Regions from separate parts of the Homo sapiens genome. Here regions 1 and 2 are each linked to region 3. Evidence: fine-mapped expression QTL. A gene starts in region 3. Each other region holds a variant in brackets. All regions are shown on one strand. Distances are from middle to middle. Region 1 overlaps NACC2 (NACC family member 2). Region 2 overlaps NACC2 (NACC family member 2). Region 3 holds the start of TMEM250 (transmembrane protein 250).

What was found. PIP is the estimated chance that this variant, and not a neighbour inherited with it, causes the effect.
Region 1: its variant is the best candidate, but not a certain one, in a credible set for the expression of TMEM250 in whole blood (TOPMed, PIP 0.85).
Region 2: its variant is the best candidate, but not a certain one, in a credible set for the expression of TMEM250 in whole blood (TOPMed, PIP 0.63).

What each region holds. Positions count from the first base shown.
Region 1 is chr9:136,043,398-136,051,021 of GRCh38, reverse strand. It overlaps NACC2 (NACC family member 2), which reads left to right. Exons shown (of 6, transcript NM_144653.5): 2 at 442-1,386. The coding sequence starts at 501. Among named protein-coding and RNA genes, the nearest start is that of NACC2, 48 kb to the left of the region's middle. The variant G/A (reference allele first, on the strand shown) is at 4,075.
Region 2 is chr9:136,073,355-136,080,978 of GRCh38, reverse strand. The region is part of intron 1 of NACC2 (NACC family member 2); the gene reads left to right. Among named protein-coding and RNA genes, the nearest start is that of NACC2, 18 kb to the left of the region's middle. RefSeq lists enhancers at 1-240, 5,593-6,343. The variant G/A (reference allele first, on the strand shown) is at 3,486.
Region 3 is chr9:136,115,710-136,123,333 of GRCh38, reverse strand. TMEM250 (transmembrane protein 250) reads left to right here and starts at 4,459. Exons shown (of 2, transcript NM_152833.3): 1 at 4,459-4,849; 2 at 6,310-7,624. The coding sequence starts at 6,434. The coding sequence ends at 6,853. It overlaps LOC107987142 (a long non-coding RNA gene), which reads right to left and starts at 5,542. Exons shown (of 2, transcript NR_165242.1): 1 at 5,432-5,542; 2 at 1-1,548. RefSeq lists enhancers at 3,057-3,631, 3,632-4,208, 5,362-5,937, 5,938-6,513 and silencers at 3,876-4,265, 4,296-5,345.

The DNA of each region.
Region 1 (7,624 bases), 72 kb after region 3:
CCAGCGCGGCCCCTCCCGGGAGCTCCTGTGCGGGCTGGAACTTTTTTGAGGGGAGGAGAGTGGCTGCAGGTTTGCCCAGAGGCTCCCCCGGCGGCCCCCACCTCCTGTCCCGGGGCAGGTTCAGGCCTGCGCTCCTCCTCGCCTGCTGAGACCGAGTCGCTAAGAGCAGCCCCCTGGGAGTGGCGTGGGCGCACTCCTGCCGGGCAGCACCCCGGGGATCTGCAGCAGTGCTGGCCGGGCCCTCTTGCCCGTCTGCCAGGGGGTCTGGGAGACCCCGTGTCCCTTCTCTGGAGTGTCCCAGCCAGGAGGGGCGGGGGAGGGCGCGTGCGGAAGGCTCGCTCTTTGTAAGCCCCCGGCGGGGGAGGAGGGGGTGGGAACGGCCCCTTGAGCGGGGAGCCCGTGACCTGGAGGAACTGACCACGTGCCTCCTGCCCCCCACAGATGAGCCCCGCTAGGGCCGCCCCGCGCTGAGAGCCCAGCCCCGCCGCTGCCCGCCCGCCATGTCTCAGATGCTGCACATCGAGATCCCCAACTTCGGGAACACAGTGCTGGGCTGCCTGAACGAGCAGCGCCTGCTGGGCCTCTACTGCGATGTGTCCATCGTGGTCAAGGGCCAGGCCTTCAAGGCCCACCGGGCGGTGCTGGCCGCCAGCAGCCTCTACTTCCGCGACCTGTTCAGCGGCAACAGCAAGAGCGCCTTCGAGCTGCCCGGCTCCGTGCCGCCCGCCTGCTTCCAGCAGATCCTGTCCTTCTGCTACACGGGCAGGCTCACCATGACGGCCAGCGAGCAGCTCGTGGTCATGTACACGGCCGGCTTCCTGCAGATCCAGCACATCGTGGAGCGCGGCACCGACCTCATGTTCAAGGTGAGCTCGCCCCACTGCGACTCGCAGACCGCTGTGATCGAGGACGCCGGCTCCGAGCCCCAGAGCCCCTGCAACCAGCTGCAGCCGGCCGCCGCCGCCGCGGCCCCCTACGTCGTGTCCCCCTCGGTGCCCATCCCGCTGCTGACCCGAGTAAAGCATGAAGCCATGGAGCTGCCGCCGGCCGGCCCAGGCCTGGCCCCCAAGCGCCCGCTGGAGACGGGGCCCCGGGACGGCGTGGCGGTGGCCGCGGGGGCTGCGGTGGCGGCGGGCACAGCCCCTCTCAAACTGCCCCGTGTCTCCTACTACGGGGTGCCCAGCCTGGCCACCCTCATCCCCGGCATCCAGCAGATGCCCTACCCCCAGGGGGAGCGGACCAGTCCAGGCGCCAGCAGCCTGCCCACCACCGACAGCCCCACCTCGTACCACAACGAGGAGGACGAGGAGGACGACGAGGCCTACGACACCATGGTGGAGGAGCAGTACGGCCAGATGTACATCAAGGCCTCCGGCAGCTATGCAGGTAACGCGGCGGGGTGGAGCCCCACACCACCTGGCTGGGAAGCGGGGCCTGCCTGGGACCCGGGTGGCTCAGGAGGCCACTGGGCCGGAGGCCTGCGGGGCCACAGGGGAGCCCCCCACCAAGCCTGGAGGAGGTGGCAGAGCTCTGTTCACCATGGGGTTCAGACTTGGTCCTGGATGAGACAAGAACTCCTAGGAGACTCTGCCAGCCTGTAGGAAGGGTCTTGTCTCCACTGGATAGATGAGGAAACGCAGGTGTCCCGTGGCCCAGGGACCTGCCCCAGGGTTCACGTTCCCCGTCTGTGAAGGGCCTGGCGCCACGCGGTGTACGGGAGGACCCGCCTACTTCCCCTTTAACCTCAGTCTGCGCCTCACCCGGCCAGGTCTAGAGAGTCCCCTGAACCCAGCCCCTTTGCCACCACCTCTCCAGGCCCCGCGCCAGGGATGGGCCAGGAAGCGCCCAGTGTGCTGAGCCGAGTGAGCAGTCGCTCCCCCTCCTCTCCGTTCCTTTCTTTCAAGGAGGGCTGCTCCCCGTCCTGGGCCCCACAAACCCAGGTTGCCCTAATTGGAGATTCCTGGTTACAGCCTCTGGAGACTGTTCAGGCTTTGCTGGGCAGAGTCCCACAGTTGGTGCCCAGGATCGGGTGTCCCTGCAACCTGACTGTGTGTCTGGGCTGGCCACCTGGCTGGTCTGCATGCAGGGCCTGTGTGCAGCGGCCTGGGCCTGGGTGCGGGTGCATAATGCCAGCCACGGGCAGGTGGTGGACCCCGAGGGGCAGTGTAGGGACTCTCTCCACCCCACCACGCATATCCCTGTGCCCTGATGGGACGCCCCCCTGCCCTTCCCCTCCTGCAGTGCTGGTTGGGGGCAGAGGGGGCCAGGACCACCCACCAGCTTGGACCCCTAGGCCAGCTGGGTCCCTGTGCAGCGTCTGTCACCACAGCCGGGACAGCAGGGTAACCACTGCTTTGGCCAACCTGGCTCCCTCTCCGCCTGCAGGAGAAGCCACTGCCTTGCCAGCAGGTGCTCTGGGCTCCGTGGTGTCTTCCTGAGAACTCCGCACTTGGTTTAAATGTATATTGCTGTGTTTGCATGAATCCCACAGAATGCCAGCTCACAGGCCACCTCGATCTGGGCTTCACAGCTTTTGTTTTCTTTTAGTGGTAGGGGGTAGGGCTTGATTTGTCCTGAGACTGGGAGCTTTGCTAGCTACGGAATTGGCCCTTCCTGAGGGCAGAGCACACCGGGCTCCGGCTCACCACAGAGGCCGTACAGGATGTCAGTGCTTGTGGACCCGGCTGGCTGAGGCCTCCGGGGAATCCGCCCCATGTGCGCTTTCCCTCTGCCCCTGCTGACAGCCACCCCAGGGAAGGCAGGGGACCAGCCAGAGGCTGCTGGGGAAGGCTCCCAAGGCCCACCCAGGGCCCCTGTTGGGAAGGAGCTCTGTCCATGGGCTCCAGTCCCAGGGCAGAACCCCAGACAGGCTGGGCACCCCTACAGTCCCTGAGGACATCCCCCATTGATGGCAGCCAGACAGTGCCCTGCCGACAATGGCAGCCAGACAGGGCCCTGCCGACGGGTTGCCGACGGGTCAGGGAGCTGCACCATGGAGATGGAAACAGACCCATCGTATCCAAACATCTTCCCAGGGTCCTCCCTGCACAGCCCCCTGCTGCTCCAATGTGACCTTGGGCCTTGGTGTGTTTGGGGTGATGGGAGCCAGGGCTGGGTGTCGGGTTTGCTGGGAGCACGGTGAAGCCTCGTGACTTGTCCCATGCATCTGCCCCTGGGTGCTGGGTCAGCCTTAAGCCCTCACATCGCCTGGACTTCGTGAGCTAGAAGCCCTCACGCCCACCTGCCTTGATGGGTTTTTGGGGAGTCAGCAGGACCGCAGCCAGGAAGCGGCTCTGTGGAGTCCCGGATGTGTGTTGGGTGGGGACGGGAGGCAGCTGCTCTGGTGAGTCCTTCCCTCCAACTCCCCCGTACTCAGACCACACGAGGTACAGTCCCATTGGGGCTGAGGGGTGGGGACACCCTCAAGGCCATGTTCCTGCAGGGCTTTGTCCAGGCCGCAGGTGCTGCGCGGCATTCTCTGCCTTTGCACGGGTGTCGCTGATGCCAGCGAGGTGGAAAGTGGGCGGCTGGGAGGCCAGGCCTGCTCCCGCCCACCTACCATACAGTTTGGCTCTGGATGCCACAGTCTGGGTTTCTTGTCATGGTTTTTCTGTTCGGCAAGCCCATAAGTGGGGCAGAGAAAGGGGGTGTGTGATTTCTTGGTTAAAATCTAGGTTACTGGCTGTGACGTTGCTGGCGTCGCTGGGTGTGCTGGGTTGGCGGTGCCATGGGGGGAGCAGGTAGAGGGAGGGGCCGTCGCCTGACCTGGAGCTGCCCCTGGGTGCTAGCTCCCCGTGCCCTCCGTGTCCCGGGCTCGTCCGGGGAACGTCCTCACACCCACGCAGGAGGCTGGCTGCTGCCCTCGCCAGGCCGTGCAGGAGTGGAGGCAGGTAGCTGTCTCTCTGGGCTGGTAGGACTAGCGTGTTCTAAGGTCCCTGCAGGCTGAGCTCCTCCTCCTCCCTGGCCTCAGTCTCCCTACCTGTTGAGTGAGAGGCGGGCCTGAGCGATTGCCGAGGGTCCCGGAGCTGCACCTTGGTGTGTGGTAATGCGTGTGCCTGTTCCACCCTCTCTCGC[G/A]TTAAGAACCATGGACAGTTTGTCCTGTAGGGCTGTTCTCCTGTTTTTGAAATAAGTCAAAATATTACAGATAAAGTTAATTGCCTTTTGTCCCCGGCACAGCCCCCGCCCCATGGTCTGTGTGGCCTCACGGCAAGGGTCTCCATGCGGTGTCTGTCTCGTGCCTCTCCTCCCTCCCTCCAGGTCCCGCGTCACCACCCGTCAGAAGGAGCCGCCACGTTTGATTTCTCCAGTGCCTTATCAAAGGACATTCAGGTTGTTTTCAGTTTGTTGCAGTCAGGAGCAAAGCTGCGAGAAGGCGCCATGCATGGGTGTGTGAGGTTGATGGGGCCGAGTTCAAGCCCCCCCACCCGCAGCGAGGCAGGCCCCGTCTCGGTCCCCATCAGGTGGACGCTGGCTCGGGACGCTCAGTGCTTCCCACCCACCAGCCCTCATCTCTGCAGCAGTCACTTCAGGGCGCCCTCCTGGGCCTTAAGCCATCACCCCTGCGGCAGGCAGGGACCTTCCTCCTGGCCCTGTGGCCGGCAGCCTCGGGAGACCCCGGAGCAAGATGAGCTGGGGGTGGGGTGCACCCAGGGGTGAAAGAAAAACATCGTATCCACCGGAAGGGAAACGCCCAGTGCAGTTCCCCTCTGGCTGATGGGGAAACCTCCCAGAGGGTGAGGCGCAGGCGTCCCTGCCTGGCGTTGTCAGGGGCCTTGCATCTGAGCTAGAGATTGCGAAATGCCTGCCTCCGCCTCCCCTGCACCCCCATCCCTTCCCGCCCCACCACGGGGGTGAGTCAGGGGCCAGCCCCTCCAGAGAGCAGGAGGTGGGCCGGGCAGAGGGAGCCTGTGCCTTGGGACTTGGTGGTGCTGTGGCCTGAGCGGGAGCCCCTTTCCTCTTCGGGCCCTCTTCCTCGCGTACCCGCCTTCATTCCCCCAGGGTGCGGCTGCATTCCCGCTGGGGCTCAGGGCTCGGGGGCATCTGAACGTCCAGCAGGGACACCGGGAGCCGGGGCTTCCCCGGCAAGGCAGCCGGCCGGGTGGGCAGCGCCAGCTGGGGCTGGGCTTGGGGTGGGGGCTCCCCAGCTGCGCTCAGGGGTCTGTTCCCGTGGTCTCCTTGGCACATCTGGATCCACAGGTCCCTGCAACAGCCGAGACGGTCATGGCAGCTGCTTTTACCCCAGGGCAGATGACAGCACGGGGCCCTGACGGTTATTTCATTGAGTGGGGGTGGCCGTTGTCACCCAAGCTGAGGACGGGCACCTGTGGCATGGCAGACCGCTGAGGTCGAGGGACAGGGAAATGGAGCTCGCAGAGGGAAGGGGTAGTGCCATGCTGGGGCTTCTCTCCTGTCCTCTGAAGGGGAGGGGGCTGCCCGGACCTGCGCCCACACCCCCTCCTGTGCCTGATGGGGCTCGCCCGGCCATCCCTTTCATGCCCTCAGCAGTGGCTTCGGGCGGGCAGATGTTTAATTGCAGCTGGCAGATGTCACTCTGTGTGGCTGGCAGAGACAAAGCCACGCCTGGGTATTGACACCAGCTGCACACTTCCACGGTAACCCTTTCCCAGCAGGGGACAGCTCTGGCCACAGGGCCCGTGGGCCCGTGACGGTAACCCTTTCCTGGCAGGGGACAGCTCTGGCCACAGGGCCTGTGGGCCCGTGAGTGGGTGGCCCTGTGCATGTCCGCTTCCCCTTCCCTTCTGGCTCCCTCCACCCCCACCTCTCTGGGGTCCACCCGGTGTCCCCTGTGTGCCTCTCTGCAGGGCATGGGGGTCAGGCACCCATCCCTAAGCTGGGTACCCACTTCCATGGGGCGGTCTGAACTCAGGCAAAACAGGCAAAGTTGGAACTGCTCAGGGTCCAGGAGACCCTCCCATCCAGCCTCAGACCAGCTGCCCACATCCTGGACCCTGGACAGATGCCACTGGGTGTGGGTCGTGGCACACAGCAGCACATCTGTCCTGGCTCTGCCCATCAGGAGAGGCCTGCTGCGGGCCCCACCCTTTTCAGGGTGACCTGCAAGGTCAGCACTGGCCCCGTCCATCCCCCGGCTGAACACCCAGGCTTGGGTGGGGTGCTCCCGGCCCTGGGCCACAGAACCCAGGTGGCCAGGGCTGCTGGCTAGGGTGGTCTCCGTTGCAGCCACTCACCCCCCACCATTACCCATCCGGAAGGTACACCTGCCCGGTCGGGGAGCAGGGCTGTATGTCCGAGGCCGCTCCCACCAGCAGCTCAAAACTCAGGACTGTTGTTTGGGGTTCCCAGAGAGAAGCAAGAAGAGGGGCTGAACTTGGGGTTGCTGAGTATGCAAATCGCACCATCGTCCCCACTCTGCTGCCTTGTGGCCTGGGACGGGGGCGTCCGCACTGTTAGAGCCCCCCCACCACCACCCAGGGAGCAGAGGGTGCCTTCATCTCTGGCCTGGATAGGGTGGGGCCCAAGAGGAGGCCCCAAGCAGAGATGGCCAGACCGGGGAGTGCCGTTGGCTGCAGGGGTCGGGGGTGAAGGGTTCCTTCTGCTTTGAAGGGCCAATACCCCTGCAACTCAGGCCTTCCGAGGAGCCGAGACCACAGTCATGTGCCGCTATGCCCAGCTAATTTTGTAATTATTTATAGAGACAGGGTCTCGCTATATTGTCCAGGTGGCCTCGAATTCCTGGGCTCAAGAAATCCTCCCGCCTCAGCCTCCCAAAAAGCTGCGATTACAGGTGGGAGCACCGCACTGGACCATCTGTCTGCTTTCATCAGCATCCTGTAGATATGGTGCATCTGTGGTGTGGCCCGTCTAGGCCATTGTTCTCTCCTCCCCGCCTTTTTTGCTTGCTAAAGTATTTGTATTGGCCAGGCGTGGTGGCTCACCCCTGTAATCCCAGCACTTTGGGAGGCTGAGGTGGGCAGATCTCTTAAGGTCAGGAATTTGAGAGCTGGCTGGCCAACATGGCGAAACCCCTTCTCTACTGAAAATACAAAAATTAGCCGGGTGTGGTGATGCACGCTTGTAGTCCCAGCTACTCTGGAGGCTGAGGCAGGAGGATCACTTGAACAAGGAGGCAGAGGCTGCAGTGAGCTGAGATTGCGCCACTGCACTCCAGCCTGGTGACAGAGCGAGACCCTGTCCCCAACCAAAAAACAAAAACCAAAAGTATTTGTATCCTTTACAAAGTGTGCCATCAGTGAGTTCACTGTGCAATCAAGTGCAATGTTGCAATCAACATACAGAACAGTTCCCTCCTGTAGAATGTTACCCTGGGGTTCTTTGCACAGAGTCGTCTACCCCATCCTGGCCCCACGGGACCACCACCCTGCTGCCTCCTACTGCCCTTTTGCTTCTCATAGGATCCCTGTGCGTGAGACCGTGCAGCGGTAGATCCTGTATATTTCCGTGTGTCATGGTTTCTGTTCGTCATGTGGTTGAACGCATGAGGCCAAGGGGCTGCATGAGGCCGCACTCCCACCAGCAGCCCGTGAGAGCAGCAGGCGCCCCACGGCCTTACGGCAGCCGGGGTTCTCTGTCAGCCTTGACGTTTCAGCCCTTCCTCGTGGGTGGAATATCAGTGACATCCCAT
Region 2 (7,624 bases), 42 kb after region 3:
ACAGCGGGAGGGGCTGCCACCTTGGACCTGTCCCAGGCCTGTGTCCCCCCGACCTACTCGAGCGGCTGGGGCTTGGCACCCTAGCACGCAGGGGCGGCTCTGCTGGGGGCCTGATGCAGCTGGCTGGAGTTTGCGCCGGGCACAGGCCGGCCTGTGGTCATCTGCCGTCTGCTCTCCCTGCATCCTCTGCAGTGACTCCGCTGGGGTCTGGGTGTGTGTCACGGCCCCCCGTCTCCACGTGTCTGGAGAGGAGGAGACCCCCAGCTAACCCACACTCCACGACCTCCAAATCAGATAAGCAAGAGCTCCGTGGAGTGTCCTTCCTGGGCTGATTCTGTGCGGTCTGTGGGGTGGGGGATGGTGTGCTGGCAGTAGCGTTGGAGTTTTTTTATTGGAGCAGGGTAGTGGGGAGATGGAGTTTCGCTGTTGTTACCCAGGCTGGAGTGCAGTGGCACGATCTCAGCACACAACCTCTGCCTCCCAGGTTGAAGCAATTCTCCTGTCTCAGCCTCCCGAGTAGCTGGGATTGCAGGCGTGCGCCACCACGCCCAGCTAATTTTGTATTTTTAATAGAGACGTTTTTAATACCCCACTGCAGTGGGCTGCTGGGCGGATTTTCCTAGAACCTGGGTTGGGTTTTGGATGCCCTGAGAGGTGGCATCCCATGTAGGGGCAGCGAAGGGGCCTGGGCTCAGAGAAGGAGAGCACAGAGATGGGTGCGGGGGCCCTGCTGGGATGAGGCTGTACAGGCTGGGGGTGCAGTACCGCTCTGGCACCATCCCTGGTGTGGCGTGGCTACAGGGCCCTGCCAGGAGGCCCTTGTGGTCAAACCGTTGGCTTTTGTGGGGCACAGTGGCATGGGCTTTGGCTGGCAGCCACGCCCGGGGTAGGGACTGTGTGTCTCTGCCAGCTGGGCCATGACTACAGTGGGTGGCCAAGGGTGTGGGCTATCAGGTCAGCCCCAGGCCTGGCCCAGGCAGCCCCATGGCCAGCAGAGCCCATCTGTAGCTCTCCAGGAGGGCCGCCTCTCCCTGGGGAACAGCTCCAAAAGCTTTCCTTGGGGAACAGGTGGCAGGGCTAGCGGCTCCTTCCACAGCACGGCTGTGGCCTGGCCCCTGGGGCCTTGGGGTCCTGGAAAGTTGAGACTTCCCCGGCTGCTGCCTGTCCTGGTGGCCTGAAATCTTACAGGCTTCAAGATTTCGTAACTTTCCTATTCCTAGTCGCAGAATGGGTAGTGGGAGGCCTGAGACCCATCTGGCTTCTGCAGCCACGCTCCAGGGCTCTGGTGACCCTGGAGTGCATTCGGGGAGTGCCGGCCACGGCAGGGCCCCAGGAAGGAGCTCTGGGGGGCCTCTGGCCTCTCTTCTGCCCTCGGTTGAGGGCCAAGTGGCCTTTCCACTCAGTGAGTCAGCCTGTTCCTTCGTGTCATTCTCAGCAGGCCATGGGGTGCCCATGCCTGCGGGTGAGGAGGGGCTTGCTGCCCCACCTGCTGGCGTCCAGCCTGTACAGCCTGGGGCCTGTCTGGAGATCCTGGTTCCTTGGCTGCACCTGCAGGGCCCCCGGAGTCCACGCATTGGCTTCTGCAGTTGGCATCCTGTGCTTGTAGGAGTGTCTCCTGCCTGGAAGCCAGAGGATGGCACCCCGTTCCATCAGGCCTGAAGGTGGCTGGGTGCCAGGCAGCCCTTCCTGGGTGTGGGACTCTGGGCAAGTGCCCTGCCTCTCCCTGGTCTCCCCCTCAGCTCAGAGAGTGCAGTTCCCACCCTGGGAGGATGTCTGCACCTTGCAGCCTCTTCAGCCCTTAGCCCTCTTGGCAAGAGCTCAAGCTTTCTCTTGTTAAGGACGGGACGCACAGACATACGTGAGTAGATTTCAGGTTACGTGCCCTAAACTAATACCGTGTGCACTTAAAAAAAAAAAAAAGAAGAAGCTATGATTGAAGTCAAATTAACATATTTACCTTCAGTGCTCCCTCGGGAACCGTTAGGGAATCGGAGAGGGGCGGCGGCGGCGCGGCATCATGCCGGCGACGGTGCTAAGGGCATCTGCTCCCCGTGGGGATGGGTGTGTGCTCCTGAGTTTGCCTTGGCTTCCCCTGCTTACCCACAAGGTCGCCTGGACAAGGGGCGAGAGGCCCTGCCCTGAGAGCCTCAGTTCCTGGAGGGGACCACGCTGGGGGTGCTTACTGGGGACCAGGATGCGGCGGTGGCTGTGGTGCCACACTCGTGATGACAGCCCTGCCTGAGGGGCTCGCTTTGCTCAGCTCTGATGTGGCTGAGATTCAGGTGCCTGACCTGTCCCCCAGCCATTCCCACGCCCCTTTCTGTCCCGATGTCGGGGCTGGGCTGGCCCCTCTTGCCTCGCACAGGTTTATGGCCTAGGAGTACATTCCCCTGGAGTCCCGTCTATGCATCCAGGTACGGTTCCAGGGCCAGTGAGCGGGCCACGTCCCACCTCCAAGCCTCAGTTTTCTCATCTGTACAGTAGGGTAATGGTATTTCTCCTGCGCTTACTTTAAGGATTAAATGGAAAAACCTGTATTAAGGATTGCCATTTAAAGATTAAATGGAAAAGCCTGGGCCTTTAGTTCCTGAAATGAGAGAGCCAGAATTATTTGGAGAACCTGCCCCCAGATGTGCCTGTCCCCCTCATGAATTCTGCATTCCGAGGGACTGAGCTTCGTGGAATTCTGGCGTCTTCTGGCCTGCAGGCGAGTGGGGCTGGCCACAAGGTTGCGGGGGGTGGGGGTCCTGGGGACCCCTGCCAGGTGGTGGGTATGCACCCGGCCTTGGGGATGAGGGTTTGAGTGGGTGCCTGGTCCATCCCACTCTCTACCACTGTGTCTGTAAACTCGTGCATGGATTGTTTAAAGATAGTACGGCAAACCTCGTGATTATAAAAGTATGATTGGGCCGGACGCGGTGGCTCATGCCTATAATCCCAGCACTTTGGGAGGCCGAGGCGGGTGGATCACGAGGTCAGGAGTTTGAGACCAGCCTGGCTAACATGGTGAAACCCCGTCTCTACTAAAAAGAAGTACAAAAAAACCCAAAACAAAACTATGATTGGACTGATATTATTTACGTGGTTTTCACTCCCAAAGGCACACCTTTGCGTATAAAGCACAAGTCAGTATTCATCACTGATTCCTTATTCACTTTTCAAACTACTTTCACTTACCTTTTATTACTTTATAAATAATTTTAAGCACAATTTTGTTGCCCCCTTGCCTGCTCCCCGGTGTGGGGGTGGCCAGAGTCCTTGGGGTCCCCTCGCATTTCCCGGGTGACCACACAGCTGCCCCCTGCTCAGGTGTCACCGCCTGGGGACCTTCTCCTCTGTGAAGGGCCTGTTCTGGGCTCTTGCCCCTCCCTCCTCTGTGCGTTTCCCTTTTCTTGATGGATTTGTAGAATTTGTAGAATTCTTTCCATACTCTGACCACACGCCCTTTGCTGAAGATACATATGTTGCAAAGGTCTGTCCTTCTC[G/A]GCTTGTTTTTTCTCTTAGTGTTGGTCTTTATTTTTCAATATTTTAATGAAGCACGACTTATCAACAATGTCCTTTGTGCCCTGTTAGGGTTTTTGTTGTTTGTTTGTTTGTTTTGCCAAAGGCCATGTTTCTCTTCTGCTTTTTTTGTTTTGTTTTGTTTTTTGAGACGGAGTCTTGCTCTGTCGCCCAGGCTGGAGTGCAATGGCGCAATCTTGGCTCACTGCAACCTCCACCTCCGGGTTCAAGCAATTCTCCTGCCTCAGCCTCCCAAGTGGCTGGGACTACAGGCGCCCGCCACCACGCCCAGCTAATTTTTGTTTGTTTTTTTCTCTGTCACCCAGGCTGGAGTGTAGTGGCGCAATCTCGGCTCACTGCAACCTCCACCTCCGGGTTCAAGCGATTCTCCTGCCTCAGCCTCCCAAGTGGCTGGGACTACAGGCGCCCGCCACCACACCCGGCTATTTTATTTATTTATTTATTTATTTTTGAGACAGAGTCTCGCTCTGTCGCCCAGGCTGGAGTGCAGTGGCGCGATCTCGGCTCACTGCAGGCCCTGCCTCCTGGGTTCACGCCATTCTCCGCCTAGTCCCAAGTAGCTGGGACTACAGGCGCCCGCCACCACGCCCGGCTAATTTTTTTTGTATTTTTAGTAGAGAAGGGGTTTCACCGTGTTAGCCAGGATGGTCTCGATCTCCTGACCTCATGATCCACCCACCTCAGCCTCCCAAAGTGCTGAGATTACAGGCATGAGCCACCACCAGGCCAATACATTTTTTAAAAATTGTAGTCAAATATACACAACATGAAATTCACCATTTTAACCATTTTTTAAGCGCACAGTTCAGTGGCAGTAAGAACATTCCCATGGCTGTCAACCCTCACCTCTGTTTGCAGAACGTTTTCATCATCCCTGACCGAAACTGCACCCATTGAACACCAACTCCCCTCCGCAGTCCCCCAGCCCCTGGAAACCTCCGTTCTGCTTCCTGTCTCTGAACTGTCCTGCTCTGTGCCCGCGTGTGAGTGGAACCCCGTGGCGTTGTCTGTGTGTGCCTGGTGGCTTTCACTCGGCATAGTGTCTTTGAGGTTCACCGGGCTGGGGGGTGCATCAGAATTTCATTTCATTTTTGTCGTGGTATGGGCAGGAAACCTGGCTCAGAGAACATTTGAGGAACTGGGTGTTTAGAGTCACTGAGGAGAGGAGGCTGGATAGATTGTTGGGTTAGTTACAGCACTTCTTCGAGTTCCGCAGGGCCGGGAAACGCTGCCCCTTGGGGTTCTCTTTGCTACTGGATGGAAATCATTTGCTTTTCTTTTGGTTGCATATAGGAGACTTAGGATGTCACGGGGTATGGGGTGTCATCACTACTGAGTTGCAAATCAGGCAGAGGCCGCGAAGGGTGCCTGTTTACTTTATTTCCAAGTTTTCGATGACTGTTCTTTGCAGGATCTCTTCGTGACCACACGTAACCTTCATGCAGGGCTTTGAGAAGCGGGTGTCTCGGAGTTTTGTCACAGATGCAGCAGAGGAGTGGGCAGCAGCCCCAGGGCCACAGGCACTGAGCACATGGAGGGCTGCGGGGCTGCTCCTGGGCGCTTTGTAGGAAAGCCTGGGTTCCGTTTTCAGCAGCCTCTCACTCCAGAGGAGATGACTTTGCTCTTATTGAATCTTGTGTCCCGAGCCTCAGAGCCCAAACCCAAGACCCCTGTCTCTGAGGTTTCACCGACAGGGCCTGTGGGTGTTGGGTGGGTCTCCTCCCCTGGGCGCAGTCTGCACGGGGGTGTCCTCCCCGCGTGTGGAAGACCGGGCACAGGGAGCTCAGGACAGCATCAGCACAGGTTTCCTGAGGGGGCCCTGCAGGCTCTGCTCCCGCAGGACCTGCGACCCCGAACCCTGAATGTGGGCCTATGCCCGATAAAAGAAGATGCGTCCTCAGGCACGACAGCCTGGGCTTGGCCCCAGCTGCGCGATCTGTTTGAGAAACTGTACCGCGATGTAGGAGACGGCAGGTTCACACGGAGCCGCTGCCGACGTCTACGAAAGGGAAACAGGCTCGGGGAGACATTCGCCTCCGAGTTCCAAGCCCGGGGAGAGTGGACACCCTGTAATGAGCGCTTCAGTCAGTTCGCAGCAGCCAGCCTCGGGGGAGCTAGGGAGGGCTTTCCCCCCAAGTATCCCAGCCAGGCGGCCGCAGCCAGCTCTCCCTCATCCCGGTCAGTGCCGGACTGGACCAGAATGTGTCCTGGAGTCCTGGCCACCTCCCTGGTGCCATGTGACAGCTGTCTGAGGCCAAGTCTGTGTGTGGGGGGCGTTGCAGCCTGCTGCACCCACACCTGGGGCTCCCCACTTCCTGGCCTGCCGCTTTGAGGGAGCAGAAGCCGCCATTGAGGACAAGGTGGAATCGGCTCATTTCACGCAGAACCAAGAGCGTCGGCCTGGAGGAGGTCACGTCCTCTACTGGGCCTCACGTCACTGTTTCGTGAGGATCCGATTGCTGTTCCCCCAGCCCCATACGCGACAGTGAGTGGGGGACAGAGCTCCCGGGCTCCCAGAAGGAGGCCGTGCGAGAACCCATTCCCGCCAGCATCCCCCGGCCCTGCCGACTCCGCCTCGGCTGGGAAGGCCACGCTTCCTGCCGCTCTGTGTGAGGTGTAGACGCCGAGGCTGAGTGATACATCCCCGAGCCCCGCAGGTGAGCTGGGAACAGAATGTGACCACCGACATGGGCCCTCTGGGAGTCACAGGGGATGGTCGTTCGGAAGGTCCAGCTTCATCTGTCGGTGCAGTTTAGGGTGTGACTTGGTGGAGGCACGGTCAGTATTGAGTCAATGTTGAACCAGAGATAGGTTCCTTGAGGAAGGCAGGCAGCCTTGCTGTGACAGAACGAGGAATGGTTTTGACCTGTCCGTCTGTGTTAATTGAAGGGATGATACATAATTTTAAATAACCTCAGAAATTATTAACATCTTTATAAAGAACCTTAATGTTTCTGGAATGAAGAACTTTGTTTTCTTTTTCTTCTTTTTTCTTTTTTTTTTTGAGACGGAGTCTTGCTCTGTCGCCCGGGCTGGAGTGCAGTGGCACAACCTCGGCTCACTGCAAGCTCCGCCTCCCGGGTTCACTCCATTCTCCTGCCTCAGCCTCCCGAGTAGCTGGGACTACAGGCGCCCACCACCATGCCCGGCTAATTTTTTTGTATTTTATTAGTAGAGACGGGGTTTCACCGTGTTAGCCAGGATGGTCTGGATCTCCTGACCTCGTGATCTGCCCTCCTCGGCCTCCCAAAGTGCTGGGATTACAGGCATGAGCCACCGCGCCTGGCCATGCCTGGCTAATTTTTTAACAAATTATTTGTGGAGACTATAATCTTACCATCTCTCCTGGTCTCTCACTCCTGGACTCAAGTGATCCTTCTGCTTCAGCCTCCCAAAGTGCTGGGATTCCAGGCATGAGCCACTGTGCCCGGCCAAGATCTTAATTTTTTTAAAAAAATAGTCAAGGACATGACGGAGTCTGTGCAAATCCCTGTTGGTTACTTCGGTGAGAGCCAGGGTCTGCTTTCAGGGCAGAGGGAAGGATCACCGCTTACTGCTGACCCTGCTTCTGGGCAGACCAGATACTCCAAGACCAGGCAGCATTTTAGCAGACAGAACACCAAATCCTGCTTGGACGCAAATGCAGTACTTGGCAGTAGAGGATGCATAAGCACCTTTAAAACAATTAGGAATAGACCCATTGAAACTGAGCAAATTGTGCCAAAATTGTAGCACACACGCAGCTGCTTTTCATACTCCTTATTTCCAGGTATTATGAACCGAGGGAAATCAAGTCGACTTTCTGCAAACATTCTTGGGTTGTCCATACATCCACTGGAGTCTTTTGTCTTTTCCTGTTCTCTTTGGCATTCGAGACCAATTGTGCATTTCACTTTGAGACAAGCGCCTCTTCTCCCCTGATGGGCAGGACTATACTCTGATACAGCTGGATCCACGCTCACACCCCCTGTCCACTGCAGCTCCTACTGGGGTCCTCATTTTTTATTTTTTATTAAAAATTTTTTTTTTGAGACAGTCTTGCTCTGTCACCCAGGCTGGAGTGCAGCGGTAAGACCACAGCTCACTGCAGCCTTCACCTCCT
Region 3 (7,624 bases):
ACCTGCTCAGCACGCGCCCTGGGCCGGCCTCGGTGGGGAAAGTGCTCCTTCCAAGCAGGGGTTGGCTCGCTGTCCCTGCAAAGGTAGGACAACCCCAGGTGTTCCCAGCCGCACGGCCAGGGGTCCCGTCCAGCTTGGGGGCTCTGCGTCGGCAGCGAGCACCACATTCGGCCCCAACTTAAAGTCTCCCACAGACCTGGAGCCGCTGGGTCCCTCCTGCGCTTGGCGGCACCACAGGCACCAGCCCAGCAGATGGCGCCAAGCCACTGTCCACAGCGCAGCAGGAGGCCTGACGGGGACAGGGACGGGGACAGGGAGGCTATGGGGACCCCGGCTGGACCTCACACGTCAGGACAAACCCGTGACAAATCCCCAGCACACGGTGGTTCTGGGGTGACCGAGCTGTGGCCAGGCCGGGGGCGCAGGAAGGCGCAGAACCCGGGAGTGGGCAGAGGACCAGAAGCAGCTGCGGCCGGGGAGGAAATCGGTGTCCTGGGAAGCTACTTGCGCTGTGCACGCATGGACTGGGTCACGAGGCCAAAACCCACGGTGGCCACGGCAAGAGAGCCCTGGGCCAGCGGAGACACAGGCCACCAACAGGCGGGGGTGGCTTTGTGTGAGGAGGAAGGGGAGGCAGGAGACAGGGGACAGGGGGTGTGACGGAAGGGGCAGCCCAAGATTGAAGGCGCCTCCCAGAGATGGGGCATTCGAGCTGGGTCCTGAAGGGCGAGTAGGAGCTCGGAAGATGGAGAAGGGACAGAGAGAGAGAAAAGGCAACTGTAAAGAGGTCCAGGCTCCTGCCCTGTACCCTGGTTTCACAGGGAGGTAGGGGAGGCTGGCGGTTCTGGAGGGTCAGCCAGGGAAGGGCGACCCCCACTGTCTTCTGTGAAGGGTGCCAAGGGGTGGCCTCAAGGACAGCGTCCAGCCACGAACACAACCAAGATCAGAACCCACACCCGGGGCACAGACGCTTCCACGTGTGTGGAGCTTACAGATTCTCCAAACCGAAATTCAAGGCAGACAGATGGGACTTGCCCTATAACCCAAGGCACATGAAGCGTTTCCCCGACCATGGCGCCTCTGCTGAAGTCAAGTAATAAACAACTCCGCACTTAAATACTCATTCTCCTGGAAAGGGCAACCAGGGCTCCCCCTTACTGTCCCCTCACCCCAAACCCCAAGTGATATCCCAGCCTTGGAAGCAATGGGCAGCAGCAGCAGGGTTAGCCCGGGAAGCCACCCTCACAGCTAGAGTGGTCATCCCCATCCATGGGCGAGCAGAGACTGGCGGGGCAGGTGGCTGACCAGAGAGTGTGGAACCATCAACACAGACAAGGCGACAAGGGGACAGCTGCACCCTTTGGGAATTCAGGACACAGAACCCTCCTGTAGGGAGAAGCACGTGACTGCGGGCCCAGCCTGAGGTAGTGGCGAGTGGGGGCCCCAGCTTTCCTGGAGATTCTAATACAGGAACATGTTTCAGGACACTCGGGCTGACATGCACTTCTTTTTATTTGTCCAAATCCGGCTTTTTTTTGTTTGTTCATGCTGAAAAAATAAAATCAGAAAGTACAGAAATGTTAAAAAAACAGTAAAATATATTCATCTCTTTAATCCCACCACACATAGATCACCTCTGCAAACATTTATCTGCTTCCAGGACTTCACCCAGAAACGGACACCTAGGAGTACGTCTGTGCTGATGAGGGGTCACACTAGACGTGACTTTGTGAACCACTTTTTTTTTCTTTTTTTTCTTTGTTTTGCGACAGTCTCACTCCGTTGCCCAGGCTGGAGTGCAGTGGCGCAATCTCCGCTCACTGCAAGCTCCGCCTCCTGGGTTCATGCCATTCTCCTGCCTCAGCCTCCCCAGTAGCTGGGACTACAGGCGCCCGCCACCACGTCCAGCTATTTTTTTTTTTTTTTGTAGTTTTTTAGTAGAGACGGGGTTTCACTGTGTTAGCCAGGATGGTCTTGATCTCCTGACCTTGAGATCTGCCCACCTTGGCCTCCCAAAGTGCTGTGATTACAGGCGTGAGCCACCATGACCGGCCTATGAACCACTTTTGACTCAGCCTGGGGGACTGTCTTCTGGGCACAGCTGGCAGTGGGTTCACCTGACCCTGTTTAGCAGCAGAAGCTTCAAGGCCTGTTCCTAATTTTGTATTTTCTTAAGGAAGGTCCCTTAAACCACAGAAGCCTCAGGCCCCACAAAACCTGCATCCGCCCCTGGCTGCAGGACACTCCAGGGTCTGGATGCAGCCAGGGCCAGCCACAGCCTCACTAGCTGACCGCACCTTTAAAAGTACGCGCATTGGCAGCTTTGTTCTGACGGCCACACCCCCCAAGAGACCTCCTTGGCCTTTGGCTTGGGTGATGCTGACCCACATGGAGGGGTCTCTGGCCCAGCAGTCCTGGGACATCCCCTGTATGAAGACCATATGTCTGACATGGCACTTGCCACCCTTTCTGGTCATTTGCCCCTCAGCCTGTCCCTGTCACAAGATGACAGGTGCCTCGAGGGTGGGGGCTCTGCTGTGCCTGTGTCCTTGGTACCCAGAGCAGGGTAGCAGCGTGGGGGCAAGTGCAGGCACGCATGCTGTGCTTCTCTGGGCGGGTGCACAGTGGGAAGCAGGGGGTGTCTAATCCAGAGCTGGAGTCAGGGGACTGCAGGGCAGGGAGGACACGGGAAACCCACAGCAAGGAGCGGGGCTGTGGCTCTGCTCCTCCCATGGCACAGCCACCAGATGGGCCAGGTGTGAGCCCTGATCCATGGACATGCGACCACCCTCACCAGCACGCGAAAAGTCGAGTGACGGGTGACCACCTGCTTTACACGCCACCCTCTATCTGGCCACGGGCGCCATCTCACGGTGCCGGCGTCCCAGCACGAGCCACATGGGAGGGGAGAATTATCTTTGGTTAGTTTGTCTCTAATAGTCCTTAAAACAGAAGACAAAAAATGAAGACAGGCATCAAGATGCTATTATCTCAATGTTTATATATTTAAAATGTTTTATTTATTTTTGTGGAGGCCATGTTGCCAGCCAGGTCGCCCAGGCTAGTCTTAAAACTCCTGGGCACAAGAGATCTGAGGCCGGAATGACAGGTGTGAGCCACCACGCCCAGCCTTATCTCAATAGCTAAACGTGTGGATCTGCCTCACATCTGGAGAGGCAGAGAGGTGAGCCACCAACAGGACTATTGAGGAAGGAAGGAGACCTGTTTATTGATTTTAAGTTTTTTGTAGAGACAGGGGCCTCACTATGTTGCCCAGGCTGGTCTCAAACTTCTGGGGCAAGTGATCCCCCTGCCTTGGCCTCCCAAAGCGGTGGAATGACAGGCGTGAACTAGCGCTTCTTGCCTGACACGTTTCTTTCGGAATATTTGCCGCCAGCCATCGGTAAAGAAAACAGGCTCTTGGCCTTTTTTGCTGTGCTACCTCCTGGTGGCCTTTGCTCGTCCAGATGTTCCTCGAACTCCTGCTCATGTCGGGTAAAGGCGGCTCTCTCTCCTGTGGCGGGGATGGGGCCACAGTGGAGAAGGTAGCTGTGCCAGCCCTCAGGGCGGCCCTGGTCCAAAGGACAGGGGCCCAGGAGCCAGCTCGCCGTCCCGGGAGGCCTGCAGCCAATGACGGGCCTGGTGGGCAGGAGGGCCCAGCCCCCTTGTTCCAGTGCCTTGAATTTGAAGGGCCACCCACTTTACGGTCGCCCCAGGGGCTGCTGACCCTGCCTTCCCCTCCTACCCAGCAGCCACACCCAGGAGCGCTCCCCAACACATTCCTCGCTGGAAACCCCCAGGACAACCGCCAGCCTGTACGAACCAGGCGTGAGGACACTAACACAAGTCCCCTTCCTTCACTGGGGGGCGGCGGGGGGGCGGCCCTGGGGCTGCTGCTGGGCCTGCTCGTGCTCCGGGGCTGTCCCTACTTCGGCTGCCGACGTCGCCGCCGGCCCACCGGGCCTCGCAGCTACACACCCGATCCGTGCCGCCCGGGTCCGCGTGGCGTCAGCCGCCCCCACCCTTCCCCGCCCTCCTGGAGCCTGGGGGGCGCCCTCATTCCCGCCGCCGCCCTGTCCTCCCAGCCCCAGGCCGCGCAGGAGGCCTTCGCACACGGCCCCGCGAGGACCAGACCTGCTCCCGGTCCCTGGGCCGCCCACCCCCGCCGGGAAAGCGGCTTCCTCCGGGGCCCGGCCCCACCCCAGCGACGGCAGCAGCGCGCCGGGTCGCAGACACCTCAGTCCGGGGCCAGGACCACGGTCAAGCCCTCTGCTGGGGCCAAAGGACTGCTCCACGGAAGCGCGCCTGCGCACTGCCTCTCCACGGGATGCGGTAGCGCGTGCGCGGAGGCGCGGCCCAGGAACGGCAAGCGCAGGCGCAGAAGACCAGGCGCGGCACCGAGGGCGTTCGGGGGAGGGAACGCTACGGACTGCTCGCAGCGTGCGCACGCACGCACGCACGCACGCCCTCGGGAAGCGACGAGTCCGGGACGCCCAGCGCGGGCCCGGAGCAGGGGGAAGGGAAGTGCGGCTCGGTCGGCGCGGGTGGAGGGGGCGTGAGGCCGCCCTACGGTGGCCGTCGAGGGACGGCGCTACGGCTCCCACGCTAGGCCAAACGCCTCCGGCGGCCGCGCCCGAGAGCCCCTTCACCTGCAGGGCGACCCCAGCCGGCGACGCGTGAACCACGCCCTCAGCCGCCTTGCCAGCGCCCCCAGCCGCGCGCCCCAGCACCATGCGGCCGCCCTGCGCACGGAGCCCCGAGGGACAGGGGCACCCGCAGGCCCGGCCCCTAGCACCGCCGGCCGGCCCCGAGGTCCGGGACGCCGGCGCCGCCGCGGAGAGGGCACCGGGTGAGCTGCGGTCGGGGACCCGGCCTAGGCGGGGGCCGTCTCCAGGGCAACGCGCGGCGCGGGACCCGGAAGTGGCTCCGGCAGGGGCTCTGCAGCCAGGGGGCCCGGCGCGGCGCGGCGCAGGCCCGGTGCTCACGCGGAGTTGGCCGGGGCCCGTTGCGTCTCTGCGGCCCCGAGGAAACAGTCCTGGGTCCATGGGCCGGGCCGAGCGGGCGTCTGCAGAAACGCAGGGACCCGGATGGAGCCGCGGGCCGCGAGACCCTGCGGGGACACAGCTCCGCCGAGTCGCGTTTGAGTGGCACCGCCATGGCCGGGGTCCCGGCCGGGGCGAGCTCCAGGCCAAGGCCGGCCTTAAATAGGGCCGCTCTGGCCCCTGCACCCCGTGGAGGAGCCGGGCGGAGGGAGAGGGCGAGGTCGGGCCCCTGCGGGCACGGGAGGGTCAGGCGGCCCCGGCCCCTCCCTCCTCCGCCCTGGCCAGGTCCCCACGGCAGGGCCCCAGGCTGAATCTGAAGGCAGGCGAAGCTCTTGGCAACAGTCCCCTGTAATGTTACCAACTTTCCTGCTCAGATTTTATTTCCTGACCTTTGAGTTCATTCCGTCTACAGATTATTTCGGCAAGGTATAAACGGCCTTTACTAGGTGAAGCTGGAGAGCCAAATGCCGCCTCTGCTCTTTGCAGCCCAGTCTGTAAGGGCCGCTGCCAGGCCCCGGGCCGACCCCACTGTGCACGCCAGGCCCAGCCCCTTCCCTCCCACAGCTACCCACAAAGGCAGTGCTATTGGCACCCCCATTGGACAGAGCAGGAGCCGTCTTGGGGTCAGGTGACCTGCCCAAAGTCACTGCTAGGGAAGGACAGTGCCAGGGTTCAGGCCCAGCAAGGTGACCCCACGGCCCCCGAGCCGTCCATCTGGCACCCAGCAGGTTGCTGGAGTCACCTGCTCCCGCCGGGCTCGTTTTCGGTTCACCTGCGAGCCCTGGAGTCCCTTTTCCCGGCCCTGTGGTGGCTTCTTGCAGATGCCATTTAAGGGCTTGCATCAGCCCTGGGTCAGGCAGCCGCAGAAGACCAGGGCAGTAACGGGCAAACTGCCTAAGAGCAGAGTGTGGTCCAGCTAGTGGGGAGCTGCGAGGATCCTGCAGGAAAGAGCCACTCTTGCCCCTTCCCATCCGTTTTGGCATTGACCACTTCCGGGGGCCTCCCCTGGCCACTGTCCCCAAGGCCCCCTTTCCCCAGTGCTGCCCTAGAACAAGCACTTTGGCTTCCCCAGGTGGTGGGCCCCTTGGAAGTATCCTTGGGAGGGTTTGTGGAAAAGAGCCCAGGAGTGCCTGCAGATCCCGCCCTGGACTCCATTTTCCCGTAGTCCTGGTGCTGGAGTTTGTGTCCACTTTCGCCAGCTGATTGCCTGGGGAGGGATCCGCATGGTGTCCTCATACTGACGTGGGTTTTGCGGCTCTCCCCGCAGGCCGACGCCTCCCCCCAGGGTCAGCTGCGGGCTCCCAGGCCTAGGCGCCCATGACCCCTACGCCAACAGCCGCCTGGACACCGCCGCCGCCACTGCGACCTAGCGCCGCCGCCGCCGGGGCCCAATGCCGGTCATGCCCATTCCGCGGCGGGTGCGCTCCTTCCACGGCCCGCACACCACCTGCCTGCATGCGGCCTGCGGGCCCGTGCGCGCCTCCCACCTGGCCCGCACCAAGTACAACAACTTCGACGTGTACATCAAGACGCGCTGGCTGTACGGCTTCATCCGCTTCCTACTCTACTTTAGCTGCAGCCTGTTCACTGCGGCGCTCTGGGGTGCGCTGGCCGCCCTCTTCTGCCTACAGTACCTGGGCGTTCGCGTCCTGCTGCGCTTCCAGCGCAAGCTGTCGGTGCTGCTGCTGCTGCTGGGCCGCCGGCGCGTGGACTTCCGCCTGGTGAACGAGCTGCTCGTCTATGGCATCCACGTCACCATGCTGCTGGTCGGGGGCCTGGGCTGGTGCTTCATGGTCTTCGTGGACATGTGAGGGCCGTGGGTGCGAGCTTGATGTATCGTCCCGGCCTGTGGCTGTGTTCTCTCCATGGGTGGGGTCGGCCAGCGCCTTCCCTTCGCCCATCCCCCAGGCAGTCGCTGCTGCCCGGCGCCCACGGAGAGAAAAGAAAGGGCTGAGACTTCTGTGATGGGGGCGCGGACACCACCCCTAGGCTGGCTTCCTGGACCCACCCTCCCCGTATGCACTCTCAGGGGCAGCGCCCACCTGCCGGTGGCTCCTGCTCACATGTCTTCGGGTCGTACTGCGGGGTGGGCCCTCCGTTCCGCCTCTCTGTGGGCCTCTCTCCAGGACCACAGCTGCCAGGGACTTTAGACATCACCCTGGGAGGCCCCTGGACACAGAGGGCTGTGTGCCCAGGAGCAATTCCGGAGGGGGGCCCTCCTGGCTGCACAGCCCCTTCTGCGTGCCCTGGCCCCAGCCCCAGCCAACGGGACACGGAAGGCTCCCCTCGCTGACACACCACACTGCCACAAAGCTGCTTACTCTGCCCTGGGCCGCCTGAGGCCTGGCACTGCCCGCGGACCACCCTGTGTGTGTCATCCTGAGGGGCTGTGTGGGTCCTGAGTCCCCAGCCAGCCTTCAGGGTCCCCTTGGATTGTGTAGATGCAGTCTAGCGGGGGGCCGGAGAAGGGCTCAGGTGGGAGGGGCCTCAGCAGGCTCCCAGCTCAGGGGCTGGCCTGGGGGGAACCCTGGGAGCCAGGGGCTGACTCCAGCAACACTGGCCTGTCTGCCTGTTCTGGGAGG